2 separate regions of the Homo sapiens genome follow, and region 2 is linked to region 1. Evidence: fine-mapped expression QTL. Tissue or cell type: whole blood. Region 1 holds a variant in brackets; the other region holds the start of a gene. All regions are shown on one strand. Distances are between the middles of the regions.

What was found. PIP is the estimated chance that this variant, and not a neighbour inherited with it, causes the effect.
Region 2: WFS1 starts here. The variant in region 1 is fine-mapped to the expression of WFS1 in whole blood (INTERVAL, PIP above 0.99).

The regions. Positions count from the first base shown.
Region 1 is chr4:6,306,507-6,311,842 of GRCh38, reverse strand. No RefSeq gene overlaps it. Among named protein-coding and RNA genes, the nearest start is that of WFS1, 39 kb to the right of the region's middle. The variant A/G (reference allele first, on the strand shown) is at 2,530.
Region 2 is chr4:6,267,040-6,272,039 of GRCh38, reverse strand. It overlaps WFS1 (wolframin ER transmembrane glycoprotein), which reads right to left and starts at 2,190. Exons shown (of 8, transcript NM_006005.3): 1 at 2,026-2,190. RefSeq lists a silencer at 2,103-2,212.

The DNA of each region.
Region 1 (5,336 bases):
TAAAAACCATGAGCATTTAATTTAATTTAAAGAGAAAGGAAGCAAAGATGTTGCCGGAAAGGGGTCCCAATCCAGACCCCAAGAGAGGGCTCTTGGATCTCGTGGAAGAAAGAATTCAGGGCAAGTCCATGGAGAAAAGTGAAAGCAAGTTTATTAGGAAAGTAAAGGAATACAAGAATGGCTACTCCATGGACAGAGCAGCCCGAGGGCTGCTGGTTGCCCATTTTTATGGTTATTTCTGATGATATGCTAAACAAGGGGCGGATTATTCATGCCTCCCCTTTCTAGACCATATAGGGTAACTTCCTGACATTGCCATGGCATTTGTAAACTGTCATGGCGGTGGTGGGAGTGTGGCAGCAAAGACGACCAGAGGTCACTCTCATGGCCATCTTGGTTTTGGTGGATTTTGGCCGGCTTCTTTACTGCAAACTGTTTTATCAGCAAGGTCTGTATGGCTTGTATTTTGTGTCAACCTCCTATCTCACCCTGTAACTTAGATGCCTTAACTGTCTGGGAATGCAGCCCAGTAGGTTTCAGCCTCATTTTACCCATCTCCTATTCAAGATGGAGTTGCTCTGGTTCACACGCCTCGACAGCCCTGCCATATGACTCCTGATGGGTGGGGTGGAGAGTGTGAGAAGGGTTCAGGGACTGGCAGAACCTGAGCTGGGCTGGCAGGAGATGGAGATGCCTCCAAACCAAGGGGTTCCTGGGTGGAACATGCTCTGCTCTGTCTCCACTCTGGAGCAGGGTTTGCTGATGACAGTCCCTGCACTTCCTCAGGCCCCCGCTTACCTATCTGCCCATTGGAAGGGAGCGTGTCTTGACCATGCCCAGCACAGGAGCCTTGAGAACTGGAGAATGAATGGATGATGGACTAAATCCATAAATTCATGAATGATTGAATAAATGATTGAAGGAATGAATGGCTCCATGAATGAATGATTGTGTAAATGATGGTGTGATAGATACTTCATTTCTCAACAAATCATAGCCACCCTGAAAAGCAGATCTTTATAATCCTGATCTCACAGAGGAGCCAACTGAGGCTGGAAAAGTTAGGAGGTGTGCCCAAGGCCCATCCTATAGGATAGTGACAAGTGTGACCACTGATTGACACCTACTGTGTGCTGGGCCTTGTGTCGCACACTTTGCACTCTATCGTATTCTACATAAACCCATGAGGCAGGTCCTATTATTGCTCCTGTTCTAGAGGTAAGGAACTTGAGCTTCAGAGGTTAGGGAACCTGCCCAGGGCCACACAGTAAAGGCAGAGGCCAGGCTGGAACGCAGGTCTCTCAAACCTATGCGGTCATAGGTTCTGGAGCTGGGGTCTGGCCCCATTCTGTCCTGACCCCAGTGCCTCTGTTCTTCCTCCACTGATACCTCAAAGCAAAGGGTGGTGAACTCCACCCAGCCTGCAGAATCTAGGGAAAGTTGTAAGGTTTCTATTGGTAACTATATTAGGGTTCTCCGGAGTGACAGAAGTTATAGGATCTATGTGTCTATGAAAGGGGGTTTATCAGGGAGAATTGACTCACATGATCACAAAGCAAAGTTTCCTGATAGGCTGTCTGCAAGCTAGGGAAGAAGGAAGCCAGTAGTGGCTCAGCCCGAGTCCAAAAGCCTCAAAAGTAGGGAAGCCAAGAGTGCAGCCTTCAATCTGTGGCAGAAAGCACAGATTTCGGCAAACCACTGGTGTAAGTCCCAGAGTCCAAAGGCCGAAGAACCTGTAGTCTGATGTCCAAGGGCAGGAGGAGTGGAAGGAAGCATCCAGCATGTGAGGAAGATGAAGGTGGAAGACTCAGCAAGCCAGCTTCTCCCACCTTCTTCTGCCTGCTTAGTTGGAGGCGCGCTGGCAGCGGATTGGATGGTGCCCACCCACATGGAGGAGAGGTCTTCCTCTCCCAGTCCACTGACTCAAATTTCAGTCTCCTCTGGCAACACCCCCACAGACACACCCAGAAACAATGCTTCACTAGCTTTCTAGGCATCTCTCAATCCAATCAAGTTGACACCTAACGGTAACCATCACAGTACCTATCGGGATTCATTCTTTATATGCTACAAAAAGTTCCTGCGTAATAACTTCTGCTAGTTTTTGCTGAAAGAAATCCAAACAGCCTCGAAAAGGGGACAGCCTCCTTGACTTAAACTAAACACAAAGCCCTCCCTGGTTTGGAAATACCTGGAGAAACTTGCCCCTTGGGTCTGAGCAGCCGTAGAGCAAGCAAGGGCAGTGATGGTGAGAGGTGACAGCGTACTGGCAGCCCCGCTCGCTCTCGGCGCCCCCTCTGGCCGCGCTTCAGGGGCCCTTCAGCCCGCCGCTGCACCGTGGGAGCCCCCTCTCTGGGCTGGCCGAGGCCGGAGCCGGATCCCTCTGGGCTGGCCGAGGCCGGAGCCGGATCCCTCGGCTTGTGGGGAGGTGTGCAGGGAGAGGCGCGGGCGGGAACGGGGCTGCGCGCTGCGCTTGCGGGCCAGCGAGAGTTCCGGGTGGGCGGGGGCTCAGCTGGCCTCGCTCTCGGA[A/G]AAGCCGGTCGGCGCCGCCCGCCACGGGCGGTGAGGGGCTTAGCACCCGGGCCAGCAGCTGTGGAGGGTTCGCCGGGTCCCCCAGCAGTGCCAGCACTGCGCTCGAATTCTCGCCGGGCGTCAGCTGCCTCCCCGTAGGGCAGGGCTGGGGACCTGCAGCCCACCATGCCCGAGCCTCCCCCTGGCCGTGGGCTCCTGCGCGGCCCAGCCTCCCCGACAAGCGCCGCCCCCTGCTCCGCGGCACGCCGGGTCCCATCGACCGCCCAAGGGCTGAGGAGTGAGGGCGCAGGGCGCGGGACTGGCGGGCAGCTCCACCTGCAGCCCGGTTGGGGGATCCACTAGGTGAAGCCAGCTGGGCTCCTGAGTCTAGTGGGGATTTGGAGAACCTTTGTGTCTAGCTAAGGGACTGTAAATACACCAATCAGCACTCTGTGTCTGGCTCAAGGTTTGTAAAGGCACCAATCAGTGCTCTGTGTCTAGCTAATCTAGTGGGGACTTGGAGAACTTTTGTGTCTAGCTCAGGGATTGTAAACGCACCAATCAGCACCCTGCAAAACGGACCAATCAGCTCTCTGTAAAACAGACCAATCAGCTCTCTGCAAAATGGACCAATCAGCAAGATGTGGGTGGGGCCAGATAAGGGAATAAAAGCAGGCTGCTGGAGCCAGTAATGTTGACACCCTCGGGTTGTCTTCTGTGGTGTGGAGGCTTTGTTCTTTTGTTCTTTGTGATAGATCTAATTGCTGCTCACTCTTTGGGTCTGTACTGCGTTTATGAGCTGTGACACTCGCCGTGAAGGTCTGCAGCTTCACTCCTGAACCAGCGAGAGGAGGAACCCACCAGAAGGAGGAAAACGCGGAACACATCTGAATATCAGAAGGAACAAACTCCAGACACGCCGCCTTTAAGAACTGTAACAGTCACCGCGAGGGTCCGTGGTTTCATTCTTGAAGTAAGTGAGACCAAGAACCTGCCAATTTCAGACACAATGGAGAGCGCCAGTCCTGCTGCGGGGCCATACATCTATTTAATTTCCTCTCATCTTCCCCCCGGTTCCGAGAGGAAGGTGCTTTCACCTGCACTGTTCCCATGAGGAAACGAGGCTTCAGGAATCTGATAAAGCTTCCAAACTCCCGTGGCTGGCAGGAACCAAGGTTTCGATGGCCGGACTTCTCAGCCCCCCAGGTGGAAAAGCAGGAGGCATGACAGATGAGGGTGAGAGTGCATGCCAGGTCAGGCTGAGAAGGCGACAATGCCATATGGTTTTTTCCACTTAGCTTAGCTCCAGGATGACTTTGAACAGTGTTACAGCCCCATGGGCAGAAAATTGCACTTGCCTCAAGCTTCATTAAAGCAAATCGAGTCAGAAGGGATTGAAACACCTGGAAGAAATGCAATGGATTCAAACAGGGAAAAGGTGTGGGTCCGTCCCTTTTCCTGGTAAATCCAGCAGCCTAGGAGATGTCAGAAAAACATTCCAAGGTTCCTGGACTTTTAAAGAGGCTAAGGATGGGGCCTGCCAGGTACAGGATGGCCCATGCAGGTGGAGATGCAGCCACAGGATACCTGGGATTCATTGCAGCCTCGTCACTTACCAGTGTTGGCACTGTATCGGTTATCCCGAATTTAACAGCCTAAAGCCACATTCGTCATCTTATACTCTGTGGGGGTAGGGAATCCAGGAGTGGATTCACCAGGAGGTTCTGGCTGGGTGTCTCCCCGGAGCCGCAGGCGAGTGTGGGCCGTGGCAGCCATCCCTGTTTCCAAGTGCACCATGTGGCAGTTGGCTTGAGGCTCCAGGTCCTTGAGGTGCAGGCTTCCCCACGGGGCTGCTCGCGGCATGGCTTCCTCACCCAGAGTGATGGATCCGAGAGAGAGCAGCCAAACTGAAAGCCACAGCCTTTTGTAAGCAAACCTCAGAAGTGACATCTCGTCACATCTGCCATATTCTACTGGTCGCACAGACCTATCCTGCTACATGGAAGGAGCAGCAGGAAGGTGGTGGGGATTGCTGGGACCATCTTGGAGGCTGCCACAGACATCCAAGGTGAGTTACCGCCCTGCTCCGTGCCCAGGTACCCCTGGATAAAGTGGGGACAATAACATCACCCTCACGAGGTTTTCAAAAGCATGTCCACAAAGCAGCCACCAGTGTCAGGCAGGCGGTAGGTGTTCTGCAGGGAGTAGTCGGCTGCCCCACCCAGCTCTGGGCCCAGCTCCCTCTGATGGGGCTGGTGTCCTTGGGGCTCTTCCAGCTCCAGCAGAAATGGGGAGCGGGATACCGGGTCACCTCACTGCCTGGCTTGCTGGGCCAGGCTCTCGGCTCTCAGCCCCAGTTATACACTCATCTCAGCCGGGGCTTCCCAAAACGCAGCACCCGAGTTCTTCCCATCTTTGGGGGTGGGATTCAGCACAGGACCCCACTGTCCTAAAGAGACAGGTTATTCTGTGACTAAAATAGGAAGGAAAGGGCCTTTCTGGCTAACGGCAGAAAAAAACACATCTAGTTAGAGGAAAGCTTGAAACAGTGAGTTTAGCTGATTTGATCACTTCTGGACGGAAAGAAAAGGGAACCCGAGTCTTTTCTGTTTTGTTTGCTTTGTTTTGTTCCCCAAGCTACTTTCCAAAGTCACTGTAGAAGTTCAGCACTTTAGGAACAACTTTAACAATGGTTTGCCAGCCTCCAAGGTGTGGTTTCCTAGCAACTGGGAAGCTTTTAGAGCTCCAAATAATTGATCAAGTTATGAGTGACTCAAGCAACAGCGAAGTCCTTTTTAGAAAAACAACAAAGCACCTTTATCTTTACC
Region 2 (5,000 bases), 40 kb after region 1:
AGGCAAGCTGGGAGGTGGCTGGGCATTCCAGCAGGGGTTGTGCCCAGAAGAGGAGGCAGCAGAGGGACAGTGAGCCAGGCTTGTGGCCAGGAACACGCAGGTGGCTGGGAGGTGACTGCTGGAGAGAGGACACAGGAGGGAGAGGCTGAGTGAGCAGCGAGGCGGGTCCCTGAGGGCCCGAAAGAATGCCGGCTCCTGGCTCGGGAGGCGGACCTGACCCGATAGCCCAGAGGGAAGTGGCAGCTGAAGAACCAGCAGGGCTGCGTGCAGCCAGGCCCGGATCGGGACCAGGGAGGAGCCTGGGGGTCGTCCAGGGAGAGGCGAGGGTCCTGAACCAGGGCAGGCATCCGAGTGAGGCTCAGGAGCCAGGAGAGACCCAACTGGGAGTGAGGAATGAAGGGCACAGGGGGTGGTCTGGTTTGTGGCTGGGGCTGGCTGGCTGTGGTGGTACCACTTCCGGAAGTAGGGAAGTGGGAGGGGAGGGGAGCCGTGTAGGCATAAAGCTCCCGACCTATTATGATTCTTATTGCCACCGTCAAGGATGGGTGTTTCGGGTCTGTCTGGCAGTGCAGACATCTCTGGGGGTTGAGACTGAGCTGAGGTCCCCTCTGTGACCAGCCCCAGAAGCCTGTCCAGCACTGGTCCGGGATGGGCAGGGGAGGCCTAAGTCAGAGACGCCCTCCATGCTCTTCCATCCTGGGAAAGAAGGTGAGATGGGGTCTCCCAGCCAACTTTTCCTGTGTCTGCGAAGGGAGGACAAACCAGCAGGTAGGGAAAAGAGGCTGAAATGTGGAGAAGCCTCCCTCCAAATCCCTGGTTGGATACAACGGAGACCCCATGGGAATCACAGACCCTTGGACACAGAAGTAAACAGGTGGCGACAGTGACAAAGGTGGCCTCTGGGCTTCCCGTGGGCTCCCTCTCCTGCTGCAGAGAACAGGCAGCCAGCACATGGGGTACCCAGGGCACAGCTCCTTGAGTGATGGATGCTGGCATAAGAGAAAGCCCTTTACAAACTGCAAAGCCCTGGGCCAAATGCCAGGGGTCACTGTCCAAGGTGAGGAGAGACGGGGCTGCTTCTGGAGAGATAGGGCAGAGGCCTCACACCAGGCTCTGCCCCATCAGCTTCGTGGTCCTGGGCTGGCACCAAACCCTGCTGAGCCTCAGCTTCCTGGGGTGTCAAACGGGGACTATAACTTCTCCGCCTAAGGCTACTGAGAGGGTTAAATCTGGGTGGTGGGGGGTTGCACAAATGCGACTTCCTTGGAATTCATAACATCATCTGCTAAGTGGGTGAGAGGCCAGGGCGCCATCACATCCAAAAGGGCTGGGTAGGATTCTCCAGAAAGTTTTCGTTGATCAAACAAAAAGCTAATGATCCAGAGGGTGGAGTTCATACGAGGCAGGGTCCAGGTGCTGCCACTGAAACCCCTCAACTCTCTACTGAGGGGCCCCGAGAGAGAGAGGAACTGCCACAGCGCTCCTAAGTGGGCTGTGGGGATTCAGAATGACCCCTAAGCTGCCCCTCGGGCGGGCCGGGTCCCCCTGGGGGACTGAACCCCCCTTCCCCCCCACAACACCTCCCGGGGGCCCAGGCGCGTTCCAACGGCCGGGCGGGCACCGAGGGCGGCCGTGGGTCCCGGGACCGCGGGGGAGGGGCATGACGGGGCAACTCGGGGGGGATGGCGCGGGGCGCGGGGAGGGGGCCTGCCCGCCGGCCGCTCCGCCTCTCGGGCCTGCTGTCCCGCCCGCGGCGGGGCTCCAGGCGACAGCGCGCGGGGGACCGGGGCGCGCCCCCCGGGTGACCCGTTCGGGCCCGGAACAGGGGTCGCCTTGCGCGTTGCAGAGCGGGCGGGACCCCCGGCCCTCCAACTTCGGGGACCTTGTCGGGACTTTGGGGCCAGCCACCCATCAGCTCGGAAGGGGAAACTGAGGCCCGAAGAGGACAGTGCCTCAGGGCTCTTGCCCGCCTCCTGCGCGCTGCCCACAGCCACCGCGCCACTGCCCCAGCGCCGAAGTACTCACCGGCCCGTGAGTGGGCCGCACGCGGCGCTGCGACGCCCTGGGGCCTCTGGGCCGGCAGAAAAGTTGTTCGGGAGCAGCTGAACGCGGCGCAAACGGGAGATCTGCGGCCGCGGGGGAGCAATCTGCACTCGCTGCTGAAGAGCCGGCTAGCGCGGCCTTCTGCACGAGGGGGCGGGGCAGGGGCGGGGCCTTCGGCCTCCCTCCACTCCAGACGCGGCCCCCCGGATGCGGCGCCAGCTCGGCCTGCTGAGTGGCCGGTGTAGCCGCCAATCACTCCACATCTCCGCCAATCACGGTGCGCCTCGCCTAGCTGCGGCCCGGCACTCCCCCTGCGTGGTTGGGCCCGAGGGGCCAGAAGGCGGGTCCGGCTCGCCCACAGCGAAAGTTTCCGAGCGGACTCGGGCCCCGGCCCCGCCCCCGCCCCGCCCGCGGAACGTCCAGTTGCTTAGCGAGGCCGCTCGCCTTCTCCTGTAACAGGTGGTTTGGACCCGTGGAAAAGGCTCCGGCCACCTTTCATCCACCACTCCGGCCTCAGCGTCCCCAACTGCAGATTCATTATATTTGCTGTTGCAATATTAACACACGTCTTGAGCGCCTATTCCGGCGCTGCAAGAGAGTCTAAGGGCTCCCCTAATAACAGCAGCAGAGATGGAAAAATGGGGCCTGTTTGAAACGAGTGTCTGCAGCCAAGTACTGCTTTCAGTGCCCAGAATCAAATGCAGTGTAGCAAGCTTTTCACACGGTGACTGTGGGATTCCTTTAAAGTGTGTGTTAGCCCAGGGAGTGGGCAAGGCTCAGGCAGTTTGGAGACTCTGGGAGTTTGGTTCCTGTCTGGGAGGCGTGGTTTGGAGATGAGGGCGAGGGTCTATCCTTGAGAGGCCCTGGGGAACGTGAGACCCTGCCTGCTCTGTCTCTGGTCCCCACAACCAACCTGAGCTACCTGTCCTAGTTATCACAGCAGAAACTGGGGCTCGGAGTGACTGTCAGAGATAATGCTTACCAACATGTTGGGAGCAAATATTCCAGATGGCTTTGGAGATGAGTTCTGAACACACTACTTCGGAGGACTTTTGTCAAAGCGGCGTAGTTCATGTCAGTCACCTCATTTGATTCTCCAGCTGCCCCCACTGCCCACCCCCGATCCCCAATGTTCACGTGTGACCCTGTGAGGCTCACAGAGGAAGGAAGAACACCTGCCGTCAGCCTCGCCTGCTCTGTCCAGGTTGGCTTAGGGGCTTTCACAGCTTTCAAGGGCCCCCCTAGTGACCCAAGGAGGGAGGTGGCACTGAGCCCATTTTTTATTGATGTGAAAATTGAGGCTCAGACATAGTTATTTGCCCAAAGTCTTGAAGATGTCTTTCCACCTTATCACACACTAACTGTAGAAAATTTGGAGAATTACTAAAAGTAGAAAGGAGAAAAAAAATCACTCAAAGATGATCACTGTTCACATTGTGAGATTTATGCACATTTAAGAAAATAATAAATATTAATGTGAACACACAATCACAGAGAGGCTGAAGCACTTCCCAAACCCTTTGCAGGGGCTCATTAAGCAGAGAGAAGAGGACAGATTGAAAAGTTCCTCCTGTGGAGGTCTAAGGGAAGAGAGGAAGTGCAACAAAAAATCTACAAGATGGCTTAAGGAGCCTCTATCAGAACACAGCAACACTGAACATACTCCACGGAGCTAAGAGACTGAAAAAGCAACAGGCAAATTCAGAAAGAGAAGAGTGGAGGTGAGGACAAATGAGCAAACTGGAAGATAATGTGGAGTAAATGCTTCATGATGTAGAGGAAAAGCACATGAAAATCATCAGGACAAAAAGCAGAGACTGGAAAGACAGTTCCAGGAGGTGTATTGCACAAAGGACAGGTACTCCAGGAAGAGCTGGAGGGGAAACAGAGGTGAGCAAAGTGCCAGGAGAACGTGTCCCTGGAAATCCCAGATGCCAAGGATAAAGAGACGGTCTTGCAGAGTTCCAGAAAGAACAGGTCACATCTAAGGGGAGAAAAGTTGAAGTGGTTCCTAGGGGACTTTGGAGCAATGTCCAGGGACTCTGATGATAGGATCAAGGATCCTTACCATGGCTACTACAGGATTCATCTATGTGGACAAAAGAGAGAAAATATCCACTGTGGCAAGACAGAGAAAGGACCTCAGTGATGTCCCCTTTCAGAGGAAGATATTCAGAGTTCCCCCGTCACCGAGACAGTTCAATCACAGTAGAGATTTCAAGATAGAGCAAACGCTCAGAACAGGAAGTGGTGTTAAGCAATGACCCTTGCAAAATATACAGTATGGATAATCCACATGTGCCTGTGATTTTGTACTAGCAGTGCCACATAAGGATTCTTAAAACATAAGCTACATGCTTCAAGAGAAAGTTGTATTAGCCTGGAACTAAAAAAAAAAATAGAATCTTATCACAGAGAAGTCAGAATATTTTAAGATCACATTTGGTTGAGGGGAGAAGGAGGAAGTAAAAGGATCTGATTTGGTGAGTGGGGAAGGAAAGCCTTATTGGTGGTTGGGAGGGGTGCTTCATTACCATTTACTTTTAATACATTAGCAGGGAAAGATTGGTTTAATTATGACTCTCAGCTGGGGAAGGAAAGCCTTATTGGTGGTGGGGAGGGGGCTTCATTACCATTTACTTTTAATACATTATCAGGGAAAGATTGGTTGAATTATGACTCTCAGGAATTGGAAAGTAGCAACTCACGGGAAAGAAGCAGAGTAGAACTCCTGAATTACTAGGTAGAAGTTGGGGGAGGGGTGGAGGGAGAGTAAGGAAGCAAAATTAAGGGGGAAAGTAAATAATAGCAAGAACAATAAGCTTAATAATAGTAAACATAAGATGAGATAAAATAAATAAAGCCATGGCTACCCGCCTTCGTAACACGGTGAATGGGCTGAATTTCCCATCCAAAGTCTGTAAGATTGGGGCAAAAACTAAAGTCCAGTTAAGCGC